Linked DNA regions of Homo sapiens: region 2 is linked to region 1. The links come from fine-mapping of genetic effects on plasma protein levels. A gene starts in region 1. The other region holds a variant in brackets. All regions are shown on one strand. Distances are from middle to middle.

Region 1 (9,585 bases):
TAATTGTTTAGCACCCTGTAGTTTACAAAATATTTTCATGGGCATTATCAACTGATACCACCTGAGGATATGGATGTGTTAGCCAAAATTTAAAGGAGGGTGTAGCGTTAGCTCATATCATACAGTCAATTTAATGAAGTGGCATCAAAATGTAAAACCATTTCATGTTCACAATATGAACAGTAGGCCTTCCTTATCCCGTCCCCCATGCCATCTCTGGGTCTTACCCATCCCTCAAGTTCACATTAGAAGGGCAGGGATGCTACTGAGCACTTATCTTAGGACTGCAAAAACAAGTAGAAATGTGTTTATGCATTCATTTATTGATTGCGACAGAGCAAGACCATCCCTACTATCACCATTGTCATCATCACCATCACCATTTCTATCATAATCACCACCATCATCCTCCTCCTCCTCATCATGTCCAGTGTAAGCTGGAGTGTAGTGGCGTGATCTCGGCTTACTGCAACCTCCGCCTCCTGGATTCAAGCGATTCTCCTGCTTCTGCCTCCCGAGTAGCTGGAATTACAGGTGTGTGCCACCACACCCAGCTAATGTTTTGTATTTTTAGTAGAGGCGGGGTTTCTCCATGTTGGCCAGGCTGATCTCGAACTCCTGACCTCAGGTGATCCACCTCTCTCAGCGTCCCGAAGTGCTGGAATTACAGGTGTGAGCCACTGTGCTTGGTCTATTTTTAAAGTAGTATCAAAATGTGCCCACATGAAAATGTCACATACTCATTCCTCAACCAAGAGGTGCCCCAGCTGGGCCCTTCCTCTTCTGCATGGACTTACAATATCTGGAGGTAGGCAGCTCCTGAGGATGTGCACCCCTGAGGCTGGGAAAGGTGGTCCTAGCTCTCCAGAGTCAAACTATAAAGAATGGCCCCCATCCCTAACACGTACTCAATTTGCAGGGCATCCAGGCTCATGCCTTGGCCACTGGGGGCCTTGCCAACCTGGAACAGACAAGAGGCAATCAACATTAACAGAGGCTTTCTATTTAGGCATTCTAACCAACATGCAAAAAGCCAAGAGGGCTGCAGGCTTACAAAGCTTGACCTTATAATTTATGGTGCATGTGGTATGAGGGAGTTCTGAGGCATTTTTACACAAGCTGGATGAAAGGATGAGATGTCTCCAGCTCCCCCTCTTCTCCGCCCACATTCCTGACCATCCAACACACTTTAGCAAGGAAAAGGGATAGAGGAAACAAAACTAGGAGGAAAAGCAGAAGAGAAACTCCTCTAGATTCATGCTGTGCTCAGAAACTGGGGTAGGAGAATGGAAGTCTCCAGGAAGAGCTGTTGATCCCTTCCTGCTCTGGAAGATGCACTTCTATGACTGCCCACCAGCCTCCTCCTCTGGGTGTAACCGAACACCATGGTGGAGCCACACTTCAGAGAAACACACTGCTTGCTTTTAACGTTAAACACATCCTAGCCTGTGGTTTGTGAGCCACATATGGTCCTGGGAGCCCCACGAAATAATGATGAAAGAAAATCGTTGAAATCTGGACACAGAAGCTCTCTGAAGCTATACTTTTCCTCAGTGACTCTGCAAATTGTATTAGCTGTCCAATATTCACTGAGCATTGCCATATGCCCAGTATCATATGGTGTCTCTTGTCTAATCCGCATAACAGCAAGGTTGTTCTTTTTTTTTGGGTGGAGTGCAATGGTGAACAGGGCTCACTGCAGCCTTGACTTTCCAGGCCCAAGTGATCCTCTCACCTCAGCTCCCCAAGTAGCTGGGACTACAGTCACACTCCACCATGCCTGGATAATTTTTTTTTGTATTTTTTGTAGGGACAGGGTTTTGCCTTGTTGCCCAGGCTTGTTTTGAACTCTTGGGCTCAAGCAGTCCATCTGCCTCGGCCTCCCCAAGTACTGGGATTATAGGTGTGAGCCACCACACCTGGCCTAGTGAGGTAGCAATTACTCCTGTCTTATAGCTGAAGATACTGAGGTTCAGAGAGGTCACACTCCAAAGTCAGTCATGGAGCTGAATTTGAACCCAAGTCAGTCTATTCTATAGCCTGTGTCTTAACCATTGTATGTACTATCTCCCAGAGGAAAAGAATGAGAGGGAAATGCTGAAAATATTAACAGTCCCATCGTCCTACTCTCTATTCATTCATTCAGTGCTCAGTAGAGGTAAAAATTGAGAAACCGTCCATTCTCATATCTGGCCTACAGTCTGCTTTTTTTTTTTTCCTGAGACAGGGTCTTGCTCTGTTGCCCAGGCTGGAGTACAGTGGTGCCATCATAGCTCACTATAACCTTGAACTCCCAGGCTCAAGCGATCCTCCTGTCTCAGCCTCCTGAGTGCCACCACATCCAGCTAAATTTTTTTTGGTGGAGTCAGGGTCTTGCTGTTATCTAGGCTGGTCTTGAACTCCTGGCCTCAAGTGATCTTCCTGCCTTGGCCTCCCATAGCGTTGGGATTACAGGTGTGAGGCACTGTACTTGGCCTGGATCAATTTTTAAAAATTTAAATATCATTTAATTATTTTTGATAAGGATCAGATGACTATTTCTCTAAGAAACGGATTAATAATAAGACAGGTCCTTAAAGATGCACCTTACAGAAAGGGTGACCCTGAAATCTAGAGGAGTTTAGGGATACTTCTCAAGGTCACACACTTTGGTAGCACTAAAGGAGTAGGGCTCTTGCTTTCAAGGCCAGATCTTGGCAGCAAGCTGCTTTACCAGTTATCACTGCCTCTGCCCCTAACATGGAGAACTGCTTGAAGGGGGATAACCTCTTTTTGCGCGCTAGAGATTTTAACAACACAACCCGAACTCAGCTGAATAGTTTTTAAACAAGGTTCCTGTGATGAGTGTCTTCTGATTTCTTCTGCTGTCTCCCCGCGCCACAGGTCAGAGACCTGTGCCCTGTTGAACCTAGAGGCTCCTACAATAGCTCCTGGTATTTAGCTGAAGTAGGGTGTTCCTCTCTGTCTGGGGCAGATGGTTGTATTTCTAGTCCAGAACCTGCTATAATTTACTCTGTCCTCCCACACTAATAGCGATTCTTCTATCTGCCAGCTTGGCTTCTATAGCCTTCTGCAATCTGGACCCGCTCCACCCAGTTCATCTCTTTCTTCTCTACATGTAGAACACACCCTCATGGCCAACAGGTGTCCTGGGCTCACCCCATTTCCGCCACAGAAATATCCTCCCTGCTCTCCTCATATGCAAATCATTCTTCAAGGCACTGCTCAAGGTCTTTCTGCCCCCAAAGCCTGCCCATGTACAGGCCAATGGTTTGCTTTCCAAATCTCTTTACATTTATGTTCCCAATTTACCTAAGTTAGCCCTCAACAGGTTTCTGTATATATCTCCAAGTGTAGTGCAGGCTCCTTGAGGGCAGGCACACAAGTGTTCATTCATTCACTGGAGGCTTTTAGCAACACCTTATAAAGCGAGAAAGAAGGAGAAATATAAACTATGGTTGCTTCCAGTCCTCAGGGAGGGGAGACATACCTGGCACACAGTGGGCCCTCAACAAAGGTTTGCTATATTGAACTAACATATATGCCTCTCGTTGCAATTACTTGCTAAGTCCCATGAGAGGTATCAAATGGTGTTATAGGGAAAGCATCATCAAAGAGGTGGCATTTGAACCCTATAGGCTTTAAGGGCAGGGCATGGTTTTGTCTTTGTTTACAGAACTGGGAGGAGGTTACAGACAGAAGAAACAGCATTCCTACTACACACAGTGCCAGGTGCACACAGTGCCAGGCACACATCACTCACCAGAAACTGGGGAAAGCAGTGGAATTGAGTGAGTTCTGTCCCTGCCCCGGCACCAATTAGACTGAGTGAGTGGGCAAGTTGCTTAACTTCCCTGGGCCCCCGTTTCCTTCCCATTCTGAAGTGATTAAGCTGCACAGACTTCAGAAAGAAGCAGACTGAGTGAGGTTCGAATGATGACTATATGTGACCTTGAGCCAATCCGAAGCCGGCTCGCTCAGTCTCAATTTCCTTCCTATAAAATGGGTAAAATAATTTCTACCTCACAGGGCTTTTGTGAGATTTCGAGAACATATGTGAGTCGCTAACCACACAGCCTGGCAATACCAGATTTCCTTTTACAAAAGTAGGGGTGACAACGCTGATCTGCCTCTTTCTGTGTGGCTGCTGCTGCCTCCGCAGCACCCATCCCAGAGGCTGTCAGGAGTAGGGGCCGTGGACAAACTTCATGACCCCGAAAGAGAAAACAGAGCTGAAGGGGCTTCGGGGGGAAAAAGTAAAGAGCTGGCCACAGCAGGCTAACTTGGCTAACGGGGACACTTGGTGAATGCGTCCCCTTGAACAGACTTACCACAGTCGAGAATCTTTGCTAACTCGCATCAACCATGCCTCCCAAGCTGGCTGGATTTTGGACAGCCTTTTTTGTCTCCGCCTTCAAACCCAAGGCAAAGGACAAGGCCCAACCCCATGGCGGGCTGGGAGAGTGAAAGCAGGGGGAGTCCCCCAATTCCCAGCGGAAAGGAAGGGCGATCTGTTCCCACCCGCTGACTCCCACTCCCGGGGCCAGGGCTCCTTGGGCGCCCCCCTTCATTTCTCTCCTCTCCGCACAGGTCGGGAAGGGAGGGGGTCGCGCTTGGCCCGCGGCGCAGGTTCACCCCGGCTTTCGTCCCTCCGACCCCGCCTGGCCGCCCATCCCCGACCCCCGTGGACCCTGCTCGGCCGCCCCGGCTGGGGTCGATCTGGCCCTCCGCCCCCAGCCTGCGTGGAACCCGCCGGGCCGCCAGCCCCACCTCGGCCGCGTCCCCTCCCCTCCGCTCCGCTCTTCTCCCCTCCCCTCGCGGCCACCTCGGTGCCCACCCCGGCCTCCGCAGACCCCGCCGGGACCCCGCCCCGCGCCCAGCCACCCCCGCGCCGGCTTCCCGGCCCCCGTAGACCCCGCCCGGCCCTCCCTCTCCGGGGTCGTGGCGGCGGGGAGGAGGGGCCGCCGGGCCGGCGTGCGTGGCAAGCTCTCCCGGCTCGGCTCGCTCGGCCTCCCTTACCGGGAGGCGGGGTCGGCGCCGCGGCGGCGGAGGCAGGCCCCCTCCTCCCGCCTCCTCGGCCCGGCCTCCTTCCCCGGCCGCGCGTCCTCTCGCCGCTCCGACGCCAGCAGCGCCCGCGTGCCGCTCGCCCAGTCCCGGGGGAGCCCCTGCAAGTTTCCCGGGCCGCGCGCCGCGCTCGCTCGCCTCCCAGCCCGCGGCCCGAGCCGCCGCCGCGCCCGCCATGCCCTCGGCCAAACAAAGGGGCTCCAAGGGCGGCCACGGCGCCGCGAGCCCCTCGGAGAAGGGTGCCCACCCGTCGGGCGGCGCGGATGACGTGGCGAAGAAGCCGCCGCCGGCGCCGCAGCAGCCGCCGCCGCCGCCCGCGCCGCACCCGCAGCAGCACCCGCAGCAGCACCCGCAGAACCAGGCGCACGGCAAGGGCGGCCACCGCGGCGGCGGCGGCGGCGGCGGCAAGTCCTCCTCCTCCTCCTCCGCCTCCGCCGCCGCTGCCGCCGCCGCCGCCTCGTCCTCGGCGTCCTGCTCGCGCAGGCTCGGCAGGGCGCTCAACTTTCTCTTCTACCTCGCCCTGGTGGCGGCGGCCGCTTTCTCGGGCTGGTGCGTCCACCACGTCCTGGAGGAGGTCCAGCAGGTCCGGCGCAGCCACCAGGACTTCTCCCGGCAGAGGGAGGAGCTGGGCCAGGGCTTGCAGGGCGTCGAGCAGAAGGTGGGTACCCCCGGCCCCGCAACTGTCCCCATCGACTGCGGCCTCCGGACCCACGGCCGGGCTCCTTCGTGCTTCCCGACCGGCCCCTAGCGCTGCCTGCCCAGGCCCGGAGGCGGGAGCCGGCCGCTCCTCCTTGGCGGGCCCTGGCCTAGACATCCCACTCCACGCGGCCCCCTAGTTCCGAGGCAGTCCCCAGACCCCCTTTGTTAATGGCTGCGGAGGAATCGGCCCCGAGGGATGGGCCGCCGCGAGGATGCCCAGGCCCGCCTGGCAGGGTGGGCCAAGGGCCTGTCACAGGGCATTAGCGGTGACCTGTAAGGAAGCCGGCAGGCTCCGGGGAGCCCATTCTTTCTGCATTAGGAACCGCTGAATGGGCAGAGCTGTCTGAAAAGGAGGTTGGAAGGGAAGCCAGCGCATCCCTGGAAGCCTCAGGCAAGGCCCCACCTCAGCTCTGCCTGTGGGAGACATCCGAGCGGGGTTTTTAATAGACCCGGAGCTGGCATTCTTACTCATTTGCAGGTCCAAATGAAATACCATCTATCTTTAGGTCCCTTGTCCTGTATTGGACCAGCCTGCCCAGGTGGGCCTTTGACGTAGTCCTACTTCAGCTTTTTTGGGTTTTCTTTTGAGAGGGAGTCTGGCTCTGTCGCCCAGGCTGGAGTGCAGTGGTACGATCTCAGCTCACTGCAACCTCTGCCTCCCAGGTTCCAGCGATTCTCCTGCCTCAGCCTCCTGAGTAGCTGGGATTACAGACATGTGCCACCATACCCAGCTAATTTTTTATTAGTAGTAGAGACAAAGTTTCACCGTATTGGCCAGGCTGGTCTCGAACTTCTGACCTCAAGTGATCCGCCTGCCTCGGCCTCCCAAAGTGCTGGGATTACAGGCGTGAGCCACTGCGCCCGGCCCTACTTCCGCTTTAGGGGAAGAGGAGGGCCAAAAATACTAGATCATACTGGTGAATAATACTTCTAGCCACATTTATATGGTGTTTAGAATGCTTACTCACTCACATATTATCTAATTCTTATAACTACCCTGGGAGGGAGGACTAACAGTTTTGATTTCATTTCCCAGAGCAGAACATTGAGGTTTAGACAGAGGAATGAGTTGACAAAGTCCCCAGCTGGTGAGTGACAGACACACGAGAATGTCTAGGCCACTGCCCTGTTCGTCAAGGGTCCACAGGGGTCCATTTCAGGTATGGATGGACCCAACTCTCAAGGCGAAGGTGCTTAGCTTCCACCCTTCTGTGGTTTTTCCATACCAAGTACAGCCCCTTTGATCTTATTCGCCCTCCACTATGTCATTGCTCAATGAAAGTTGGTTGCAAGACTGAAACAAAAAATCCCGCCACTTCTGATCCCGGAGCCACTGCCTCCTTTTCCCAGCATGCTGTCTGTCCTGCCAAGTTGCTCTCTGCTTTTGTTGAGTGTGCAGGACCAGGAATTTCCTCTTAAGACTGGCAGAGCACGGCCGGGCGTGGTGGCTCACGCCTGTAATCCCGGCACTGTAGGAGGCCGAGGCGGGCGGATCACCTGAGGTCAGAAGTTTGAGAGCAGCCTGGCCAACATGGTGAAACCCTGTGTCTACTAAAAATACAAAAATTAGCGGGGTGTGGTGGCACATGCCTGTAGTCCCAGCTACTCAGGAGGTTGAGGCAGGAGAATTGCTTGAACCCGGGAGGTGGAGGTTGCAGTGAGCGGAAATCCTGCCAGTGCACCCCAGCCGGGGCAACAGAGTGAGACTCCGTCTCAAAAAAAAAAAAAAAAAAAAAAAAGACTGGCAGAGCAACTGGAATGAGTCAGCCTGCTAAACGCTGCAGGCCAAGGGAGGTGACTTTTCTAAGGGAATTAAGTAGGCAGTGCTGCTTTGCCTATCCTGAATGTCAAACCATTCTTAAAAAATAGACATACTGCTGGAGTATAATGACTAGCCTCTGTTTCTTCTCTTTCATCCTCCTACTTACTAGTCAATCATAATATTTATTAAAGTCTGACAGTTGCATGGCTCTGTGTAGGCTTTGTGGGAGGGTATGAAGGAGCAAAAGACACGAATCACTTGTGCAGCGCATAAGGAGGTGTCAGTTGAGGGTAACTCCTGTGAAAGTTCAGAAGAGGGAGGGTGTGGAATTTCGCCTGTATCCCGGTGGCCAGGGTAGTGCCAGCCATCTAGCTGGTGATCGATAAATGTTGAGAGAAGGACTGTGATGAACACCGTGGCAGGGGCACTATTTTGAGCATGTTTGAGAGAGAGGAGGTGGCTACCCTGCCAATGGCAGAGTCACATGTAGGAAATTGTGAGAGAGGGTGGGTTGGAAGTTGAGGCCAAAATAGGGAAGGTCTTGAATCCAGGTTAATTCTCTGTGCTTCTCCCTGCCCCTCACTTAGTCCCTTCTTTTTGCTTCTCACCCCTTCTCCATCACAGCTATGTATATAGATCACTTTCTTCTTTGGGGCTCAGTTTTCCCACCCACACAATGAGAAGAGGGCTCCATCCAGACTTTTAAGAATCCTCATGGCTCTAAAATAATTGAAATAGTGACTTCTCTGTTTTTTATTTCATATTTTATATTTCGTAGAGACAGGGTCTCACTCTGTCACCAGGCTGGAGCGTAGTGGTGTGATCATAGCTCACTGCAGCCTTGAACTCCTGGCCTCAAGTGTTCCTCTTGCCTCAGCCTCACAAGTAGCTGGGACCACAGGCATGCACAAGCACGTCCAGCTATTTATTTATTTTTAAAATTTTTGGTAGAGACAGGGTCTTGCTGTGTTGCTCAGGCTGGTCTCAAACTCCTGGGCTCAAGCAGTCCTCCTGCCTTGGCCTCTCAAAGTGCTGGGATTACAGATGTGAGCCACTGCGCCTGGCTGACCACTTTTCTTTTAATTTAGTAGTGTAATCAAACTATAATTTAATGTGTCATATTTATGGTGCACTTATTACGTGCCAGGCACTATGCAAAGCATTTGAAAATGCATCATCTGCTGACTCTCACAACAACCCCAAGAGGTAAGTACTATTATCAGCCCTCTTTGACAGATGAGAAAAGTGAGAGGCTAAGTAACTGAGCGGTGATATAGCTAGTTAGTGGCTGGGCTAGGATCCAAACTGTTGTCTAACTCCTGGAACACTATTAACCACTCCACTATTTAGCCTAGTACATAGTAGGTGCCCAATAAATGTTCCATTGACTTGAGACTCAGAACATGGCCAGAACAGTGTTAGATTTGCCATAGAATGTGGCCACTCTGTCTGTATCTTTGGGGTGGCCAGTAAATAAATTATTTTGCATTGAGGAACCAGTTGTGTTTGGTTCTCTGACAGCCTAAGTTTGAACCCTTTTATAACTCTTGGTTACTTGTTGGGGGGTGGAGTTTGGTTCATAGCAGGGAAGTATACTTACAGTATTCATAATTACTGTTCACTATGGGTCAGCCATGCTATTAAATGCTTTATAGCCATGATTTCTGTTCTCCCAGCCACCCTCTGAGGCAGGTATCATTTAGTAGTACCATTTTGCAGATGGGGCAGCTGAGGACTGGCTGTGTAACTCATTCAAGGTCACACACAGACCATAAGTTGTGTAGCTGGAGTTGGGTGCCCACCTGTCTCTTGTTCTCCAGATGTTCTTGTTATTGGAGAATGGCTCAAATCTTCTGAATGACTGTAGCACAGGCAGAGAGGCAGGCCTGTCCTTACCCAGAGGATTCAGCAGGCACAAGTGGGTCCTGGGCTTCAGAAAGTGTTGGCAGTTCATCTCTAGGCCCTCTGAAGAGCCTGTGTTGCCCTGGCAGATCCAGCGTGATATAAAGCAATGGTAGGAGTAGGCTTAGGCCTGGTAGGGACAGTTTAATGAGACTAGG
Region 2 (9,585 bases), 150 kb before region 1:
CATGCCTATGTCCTGAATGGTATTGCCTAGGTTTTCTTCTAGGGTTTTTATGGTTTTAGGTCTAACATGTAAGTCTTTAATCCATCTGGAATTAATTTTTGTATAAGGTGTAAGGAAGGGATCCAGTTTCAGCTTTCTACGTATGGCTAGCCAGTTTTCCCAGCACCGTTTATTAAATAGGGAATCCTTTCCCCATTTCTTGTTTTTGTCAGGTTTGTCAAAGATCAGATAGTTGTAGATATGTGGCATTATTTCTGAGGGCTCTGTTCTGTTCCATTGGTCGATATTTCTGTTTTGGTACCAGTACCATGCTGTTTTGGTTACTGTAGACTTGTGGTAGTTTGAAGTCAGGTAGCGTGATGCCTCCAGCTTTGTTCTTTGGGCTTAGAATTGACTTGGCGATGCGGGCTCTTTTTTGGTTCCATATGAACTTTAAAGTAGTTTTTTCCAATTCTGTGAAGAAAGTCACTGGTAGCTTGATGGGGATGGCATTGAATCTATAAATTACCTTGGGCAGTATGGCCATTTTCACGATATTGATTCTTCCTACCCATGAGCATGAAATGTTCTTCCATTTGTTTGTATCCTCTTTTATTTCATTGAGCAGTGGTTTGTAGTTCTCCTTGAAGAGGTCCTTCACATCCCTTGTAAGTTGGATTCCTAGGTATTTTATTCTCTTTGAAGCAATTGTGAATGGGAGTTCACTCATGATTTGGCTCTGTTTGTCTGTTATTGGTGTATAAGAATGCTTGTGATTTTTGCACATTGATTTTGTATCCTGAGACTTTGCTGAAGTTGCTTATCAGCTTAAGGAGATTTTGGGCTGAGACGATGGGGTTTTCTAGATATACAATCATGTCATCTGCAAACAGGGACAATTTGACTTCCTCTTTTCCTAATTGAATACTCTTTATTTCCTTCAACTGCCTGATTGCCCTGGCCAGAACTTCCAACACTATGTTGAATAGGAGTGGTGAGAGAGGGCATCCCTGTCCTGTGCCAGTTTTCAAAGGGAATGCTTCCAGTTTTTGCCCATTCAGTATGATATTGGCTGTGGGTTTGTCATAGATAGCTCTTATTATTTTGAGATATGTCCCATCAATACCTAATTTATTGAGAGTTTTTAGCATGAAGGTTGTTGAATTTTGTCAAAGGCCTTTTCCGCATCTATTGAGATAATCATGTGGTTTTTGTCGTTGGTTCTGTTTATATGCTGGATTACATTTATTGATTTGTGTATGTTGAACCAGCCTTGCATCCCAGGGATGAAGTCCACTTGATCATGGTGGATAAGCTTTTTGATGTGCTGCTGGATTCGGTTTGCCAGTATTTTAATGAGGATTTTTGCATCAATGTTCATCAAGGATATTGGTCTAAAATTCTCTTTTTTTGTTTTGGCTCTGCCAGGCTTTGGTATCAGGATGATGCTGGCCTCATAAAATGAGTTAGGGAGGATTCCCTCTTTTTCTATTGATTGGAACAGTTTCAGAAGGAATGGTACCAGCTCCTCCTTGTACCTCTGGTAGAATCCATCTGGTCCTGGACTTTTTTTAGTTGGTAAGCTATTGATTATTGCCTCAATTTCAGAGCCTGTTATTGGTCTATTCAGAGATTCAACTTTTTCCTGGTTTAGTCTTGGGAGGATGTATGTATCGAGGAGTTTATCCATTTCTTCTAGATTTTCTAGTTTATTTGCATAGACATGTTTATAGTATTCTCTGATGGTAGTTTGTATTTCTGTGGGATCGCTGGTGATATCCCCTTTATCACTTTTTATTGCGTCTATTTGATTCTTCTCTTTTATTCTTTATTAGTCTTGCTAGCAGTCTATCAATTTTGTTAATCTTTTCAAAAAACCAGCTGCTGGATTCATTGAGTTTTTGAAGGGTTTTTTGTGTCTCTATTTCCTTCAGTTCTGCTCTGATATTAGTTATATCTTGCCTTCTGCTAGATTTTGAATGTGTTTGCTCTTGCTTTTCTAGTTCTTTTAATTGTGATGTTAGGGTGTCAATTTTAGATCTTTCCTGCTTTCTCTAGTGGGCATTTAGTGCTATAAATTTCCCTCTACACACTGCTTTGAATGTGTCCCAGAGATTCTGGTATGTTGTGTCTTTGTTCTCATTGGTTTCAAAGACCATCTTTATTTCTGCCTTCATTTCATTATGTACCCAGTAGTCATTCAGGAGCAGGTTGTTCAGTTTCCATGTAGTTGAGCGGTTTTGAGTGAGTTTCTTAATCCTGAGTTCTAGTTTGATTCCACTGTGGTCTGAGAGACAGTTTGTTATAATTTCTGTTCTTTTACATTTGCTGAAGAGTGCTTTACTTCCAACTATGTGGTCAATTTTGGAATAGGTGTGGTGTGGTGCTGAAAAGAATGTATATTCTGTTGATTTGGGGTGGAGAGTTCTGTAGATGTCTATTAGGTCCACTTGGTGCAGAGTCGAGTTCAATTCCTGGTTAACTTTCAGTCTCGTTGATCTGTCTAATGTTGACAGTGGGGTGTTAAAGTCTCCCATTATTATTGTGTGGGAGTCTAAGTCTCTTTCTAGGTCACTAAGGACTTGCTTTATGAATCTGGGTGCTCCTATATTGGGTGCATATATATTTAGGATAGTTAGCTCTTCTTGTTGAATTGATCCCTTTACCATTATGTAATGGCCTTCTTTGTCTCTTTTGATCTTTGTTGGTTTAAAGTCTGTTTTATCAGAGACTAGGATTGCAACCCCTGCCTTTTTCTGTTTTCCATTTGCTTGGCAGATCTTCCTCCATCCCTTTATTTTGAGCCTATGTGTGTCTCTGCACCTTAGATGGGTTTCCTGAATACAGCACACTGATGGGTCTTGACTCTTTATCCAATTTGCCAGTCTGTGTCTTTTAATTGGAGCATTTAGCCCATTTACATTCAAAGTTAATATCGTTATGTGTGAATTTGATCTGTCATTATGATGTCAGCTGGCTATTTTGCTTGTTAGTTGATGCAGTTTCTTCCTAGCCTTGACAGTCTTTACAATTTGGCATGTTTTTGTAGTGGCTGGTACCAGTTACCGGTTGTTCCTTTCCAAGTTTAGTGCTTCCTTCAGGAGCTCTTTTAGGGCAGGCCTGGTGGTGACAAAGTCTCTCAGCATTTGCTTGTCTGTAAAGTATTTTATTTCTCCTTCACTTATGAAGCTTAGTTTGGCTGGATATGAAATTCTGGGTTGAAAATTCTTTTCTTTGAGAATGTTGAATATTGGCCCCCACTCTCTTCTGGCTTGTAGAGTTTCTGCTGAGAGATCCGCTGTTAGTCTGATGGGCTTCCCTTTGTGGGTAACCCGATCTTTCTCCCTGGCTGCCCTTAACATTTTTTCTTTCATTTCAACTTTGGTGAATCTGACAATTATGCGTCTTGGAGTTGCTCTTCTCAAGGAGTATCTTTGTGGCATTCTCTGTATTTCCTGAATTTGAATGTTGGCCTGCCTTGCTAGATTGGGGAAGTTCTCCTGGATAATATCCTGCAGAGTGTTTTCCAACTTGGTTCCATTCTCCCTGTCACTTTCAGGTACACCAATCAGACCTACATTTGGTCTTTTCATATAGTCCCATATTTCTTGGAGGCTTTGTTCGTTTCTTTTCATTCTTTTTTCTCTAAACTTCTCTTCTTGCTTTATTTCATTCATTTCGTCTTCCATCACTGATAGCCTTTCTTCCAGTTGCATCGGCTACTGAGGCTTCTGCATTCGTCACATAGTTCTCGTGCCTTGGTTTTCAGGTCCATCAGGTCCTTTAAGGACTTCTCTGCATTGGTTATTCTAGTTAGCCATTCATTTAATTTTTTTTCAGTTTTTAACTTCTTTGCCATTGGTTCGAACTTCCTCCTGCAGCTTGGAGTAGTTTGATCGTGTGAAGCCTTCTTTTCTCAACTCGTCAAAGTCATTCTCCGTTCAGCTTTGTTCTGTTGCTGGTGAGGAGCTGCGTTCCTTTGGAGGAGGAGAGGTGCTGTGATTTTTAGAGTTTCCAGTTTTTCTGCTCTGTTTTTTCCCCATCTTTGTGGTTTCATCTACCTTTGGTCTTTGATGATGGTGACGTACAGATGGGTTTTTGATGTGGATGTCCTTCCTGTTTGTTAGTTTTCCTTCTAACAGACAGTACCCTCAGCTGCAGGTCTGTTGGAGTTTGCTAGAGGTCCACTCCAGACCCTGTTTGCCTGGGTGTCAGCAATGGTGGCTGCAGAACAGCAGGTACTGGTGAACCGCAAATGCTGCTGCCTGATCGTTCCTCTGGAAGTTTTGTCTCAGAGGAGTACCTGGCCGTGTGAGGTGTCAGTCCGCCCCTACTGGGGGGTGCCTCCCAGTTAGGCTATTCGGGGGTCAGGGAACCACTTGAGGAGGCAGTCTGCCCATTCTCAGATCTCAAGCTGCATGCTGGGAGAACCACTACTCTCTTCAAAGCTGTCAGAGAGGGACATTTAAGTCTGCAGAGGTTACTGCTGTCTTTTTGTTTGTCTGTGCCCTGCCCCCAGAGGTGGAGCCTACAGAGGCAGGCAGGCCTCCTTGAGCTGTGGTGGGCTCCACCCAGTTCGAGCTTCCCAGCCGCTTTGTTTACCTAATCAAGTCTCGGCAATGGTGGGCGCCCCTCCCCCAGCCTCGCTGCCGCCTTGCAGTTTGATCTCAGACTGCTGTGCTAGCAATGAGCGAGACTCCGTGGGCATAGGACCCTCCGAGTCATGTGCGGGATATAATCTCCTGGTGTGCCGTTTCTTAAGCCCGTTGGGAAAGTGCAGTATTAGGGTGGGAGTGACCCGATTTTCCAGGTGCCGTCTGTCACCCCTTTCTTTGACTAGGAAAGGGAATTCCCTGACCCCTTGTGCTTCCTGGGTGAGGTGATGCGTCGCCCTGCTTTGGCTCACGCACGGTGCGCTGCACCCACTGTCTGGCACACCCCAGTGAGATGAACCCGGTATCTCAGTTGGAAAGGCAGAAATCACCCGTCTTAGTGCGTCGTTCACGCTGGTAGCTGTAGACCGGAGCTGTTCCTATTTGGCCATCTTGGCTCCTTAACAGCAATTCTATTCTTAGGTACACATTCATGAGAAATGAAAATGTCCACACATCCACACAAAGATTTGCTTATACAGTCTTATTTATAATTACTAAAGACTGAAACACCAAGTGTCTATCAATAGGATAAACTGTGGTATATTCATATAACGAAATACTACTCAGCAATAAAAAGAAATGAACTACATGGATAACTGACATAAAAAGGAATGAAAAGAAATAACTTGGATGAATCTTAGACAATAAGCTCAGCAAAAGCTAGACACAAAAGAGTATATATGGCCTAATTCCATACACAATGCTGTAAAATAGGTAAAACTAATCTATGGTGCAAAAATCACTAAACTATGATGCCTAATTCCATATATAAAGTTCTGTAATTGGCAAAACTAATCTACGGTGCAAAAATCAGAATAGTGGGGAAAAAAATCAGAGAGTAGAGGTAAAGATTGACTAGGAAGGGGCATGAGGGGGAACTCTGTGGGATAAGGAAATATTCTA[T/C]ATCTTGTAAAGTCATACAATTAAGATTTGTACATTTTAGTGTACATAAATTTACTTAAAATAACCAAGTAAGAGTGTTGACAACTTTTGAAGGTAGGCCTTGGATACATGAGCATTTATAACACTATTCTCTGTACTTTGTATATGTTGAAATTTTTCCTAATCAACAATGTTTAAAGAAGAGGCATATGTGGTTCTTATTATTTTGGAACAACAATGTGCTTTTTTTTTTTTTTGAGACAGGGTCTCACTCTGTTGCCCAGGCTGGAGTACAGTGGTGTGATGTCAGCTCACTGCAGCCTCAATCTCCTAGGCTCAGGCAATCCTCCCACCTCACTCAGCCTCCCAAGTAGCAGAACTACAGGCACACGCCACCATGCCCAGCTAATTAAAACAACGACAACAACAACAACAACAACAACAAAACCTTTGGTAGAAACAGGGTCTCACTATGTTGCCTAGGCTGGTCTCCAACTCTTGGCCTCAAATGATCTTCCTGCCTGGGCCTCCCAAAGTGGCAGTATAACAGGTGTGACCTACTATGCCTGGCCAAGAATGAACTTAAAAAAAAAAAGACTTTCAGCTTAACAGAAGAAAAGGCTGGGATCTTTGATTCTTTAACTTGGAATTCCTGTCCAATTACCTGCTTGGGGAATTCCTTTTTCATGCTTCAAAACCTAGATCAGGTATCACTTCCTCTCCGAAGGCTTTCCTAACCCCACTCCTCTTTCTCTGCAGTTTTAATTCTTTATGCATTCAGGATTGCATATTTTAATTCTTGTTCATATCACATTATGTTTTAATGATCTATTTACATGTATGTTTTTCCTACTAGACTTGGTTGGTGGGAATTCCGTCATCTTTTTCTTTGACTCCCAGTGATTAGTACAGTGTTTGGAATTGAATGAAACTCTGTCCCCATGATAAGATTTGGACTTCAAATCTAAATCTTTCCCATTAAAAGGCCATTAAAGTTTAAGATAAATTAAAACCCTGAAAACACTTGCTGCAGTGACCTAGTAGTAAGTAGTAACTAAGTAACTGAAGAAAGCAGGTCAGTTGGCAGGAACCATGAGTAGATAGGCAGTTCAGTTTTCCCCCAACTAAGCTGTCTTCAATAAATGTTGGCCTTCTAGTTTCCTTGTGAAAAAGGCTAAAATTTTTCACTTGTTTGAGGGAGAAATAGAGGAACACAGGTGAGCAGGGTATCCCTTGTGATGCAAAGGCCAAGATAACATGCCTAGTGCCTCCTATCCCCCGCTACAGCTAGTACTTTCTTCTCTATATACTAGAGCCCAAGACAATGATGGTGTAAAACATACATGACCAACACAGAAAGAAGGCTTCAGGGAACAGAAGAAATGTGAGAGAGACTACAAAGCGAGGCATAAAAAACGGAGTCTCACTCTGTCACCCAGGCTGGAGTGCAGTGGCGCGATCTTGGCTCACTGCAACCTCCGCCTCCTGGGTTCAAGCGATTCTCCTGATTCAGCCTCCCGAGTAGCTGGGATTACAGGCACCCACCACCACGCCCGGCTAATTTTTGTATTTCTAGTAGAGGCGGGGTTTCACCATGTTGGCCAGGCTGGGTCTTGAACTCCTGACCTCAAATGATCCACCCACCTCGGCCTCTGGATTACAGGCATAAGCCACCATGCCTGGCCAAAAAAACAAAACCCCACAGGTTTTAAGCAATCCATTAAAGTGCCACATCTTCCAAAGTTCTATTATATAAAATAAAGTGTGATATGGTTTGGATCTGTGTCCCTACCAAACCTCACGTCAAATTGTAGTGCCCATTGTTGGAGGTGGGGCCTGGTGGGTGGTGGCTGGATCATGGGGATGGATTTCTCATGTCTGATTTAGCACCATCACCTTGGTGCTGTCCTCCTGATAGTGAGTTTTCCCAATCTGGTTGTTTAAAAGTGTGTGGCACCCCCTCCTCCCTCACGCTCTCTTGCTCTCACTCCCACTATATGAGACACCTTGCCCCCTCCTTTGCCTTCTGCCATGATTGGAAGCTTCTTGAGGCCTCCCCAGAAGCAGGTTTTGGTTCCTGTACAGGCTGCAAAACCATGAGCCAATTAAACCTCTTTTCTTTATAAATTACCCAGTCTCAGGTATTTCTTTTTTTGAGGAAAGGTCTTACTCTGTCACACAGGCTGGGGTGGCACAATCATGGGTCACTGCAGCCTTGACCTCTCAGGCTCAAGTGATCCTCCTGCCTCAGCCTCCCAAGCAGCTGAGACCACTGGTGCCTGCCACCACGCCTGGCTAATTTATTTTTATTGTTTGTAGAGATGGGGTCTTATCATGTGGTCCAGGCTGATTCGGTGTTTCTTTATAGCAATGTGAGAACAGACTAATATAAAGTGTACTTACTACATCTTCATTTTGAATAGCATAGAATATTCATGTTTTCGTAACTGTTAATATATGTTCTACATACCAACTATTTTGGGTTATTTGCATCTCTATATCCTTTTATTAGTTTCAATAGCTAATATGTGCCTTAATCCTGCACACAGAGTACGAGCACTGTCAAAGTTATACTTCCCTTTCGAGGAAAAGGAACATTTGTCTTTCTTATGTTAACTTCCTTCCATCTTTTCCTGCCATCTTCTCACTAATCTGATCTAATTTAGTTAGCTGACATTTTCTGTCAGAACCTATTTAACAGAAATAAATGAATGATTTTCCAACCTACTGTTTGGGCTCTGCTCAAACAGCTTTACAATGCTAGGGTTATTTGACCCCAATGATGATGTTTGAAATAAACTGCATACCGGATTTCACTGAAGCCACTGAGGAACCATTAAGGTAAACTTGTAGGGCACTACACAGCATTAAAGAATAGGGTATCTCCCAAAATGGAACCAAATATTCCTGTTTGCAGGGTAGATTCTACATTTTCTGCCTCCTTGATATTTCTTAATGTTTTCTCTTCATGTTCTTGGAACCCTTGGACAATGTAACTTTAGTGTACAACAAAGATTCATGCCTACCAAATATTTCATTTTTGATAAAGGCCAAAAATAGAATCTCCTAAATCCAAACCACCCTTCCTGGTGCTGCCTGCCCTGTAACTGCAGTCAACTATTAATTAACTGTAGAAAAAGAGGAAGACGGTGATGAGAATAATCCTTACTGATTTGTGCTTTGGAATTATATATATATACTGACCTATTTCGATCTTCCTAAATATCTAGTGTAGTCTACAAAAATATCAATACTGATTTGATTTCAGAATACACACTAACAGATATAAGTGGGAAATGCTTTCTCTACAAGCATCCTGGGTGAAGAGAAAAAAGCAGCCCAGAGTTTACATATGTCATACATAACCCACAGAATAGACAATGTACACGTGGATAGGTAAGAACTGTCTGTTGTGATTCTATAGTGGGGAATTCCCACCTCCCAGGATGGCTATGAGGGATGTTAACTTTGATTTATACTTAGGAAAGCACTTGCAAATATGGGACTAAAATCCTAAGTATGGCTGCTGGGGCTCCCTCCATGTGGGAAGGGAAGTGCAATTATTTTTACTATGGGGTGTGTGTGTGTGTGTGTGTGTGTGTGTGTGTGTGTGTATTTCTCAGTCTTCATCTTTGAGTCTTGCCCTAAAATTCCCAGGGTCCAACCAGGAGTGCCTGAGCAGGTCAATGAAGGCTCTGCAGCAGTAAAAGGGACTGATCCTGGGTTTTCCTTGCTGTCCAAAGCAGCACTGGGAATTCAGGAAAAGAAATAGAAACCACATACAACTGGATGCCTAAAGCAACTGAAGTAGGGAATAAAAAAAGATATTAAAGAGAAATGCATGCACACATACACACACACACACACACACACACACACACACACACACAAAACCTGTACACGAGAGTTGCCATAGTTTAAAAAGTATATTATCACTCAGGCAAATAAGGAAAAAAAAACAGTACTTCCTATTATATCAAAACAAACACCTCTTCGCCATATATCCCCTATTCTAAGTCGGGCACCATAGGCTCCTAATTTGTCTGGGCAAACTCCTTCCTCCAAACCT

Direction of the effects. Positions count from the first base shown, and alleles are read on the strand shown. Strength reflects both the effect of a copy and how common the allele is.
With allele C in place of T in region 2, the plasma level of the protein whose gene starts at base 5,071 in region 1 is higher (weak association).

The links. A credible set is the group of variants that fine-mapping cannot tell apart. PIP is the posterior inclusion probability: the model's chance that the variant is causal. Protein levels are from antibody-based Olink assays in UK Biobank. Linkage for the fine-mapping came from a reference panel and not from the study's own genotypes, which makes the PIPs less certain.
Region 2: its variant is the best candidate, but not a certain one, in a credible set for the plasma level of the CKAP4 protein (UK Biobank, PIP 0.68).

What each region holds. Positions count from the first base shown.
Region 1 is chr12:106,243,506-106,253,090 of GRCh38, reverse strand. CKAP4 (cytoskeleton associated protein 4) reads left to right here and starts at 5,071. Exons shown (of 2, transcript NM_006825.4): 1 at 5,071-5,722. The coding sequence starts at 5,240. LOC124903008 (a long non-coding RNA gene) reads right to left here and starts at 4,819. Exons shown (of 2, transcript XR_007063443.1): 1 at 4,332-4,819; 2 at 304-3,420. RefSeq lists silencers at 4,496-4,835, 4,866-5,175, 5,836-5,925.
Region 2 is chr12:106,393,313-106,402,897 of GRCh38, reverse strand. All of the region lies in intron 10 of POLR3B (RNA polymerase III subunit B), which reads right to left. Among named protein-coding and RNA genes, the nearest start is that of POLR3B, 40 kb to the right of the region's middle. RefSeq lists enhancers at 4,244-4,743, 4,744-5,245. The variant T/C (reference allele first, on the strand shown) is at 5,538.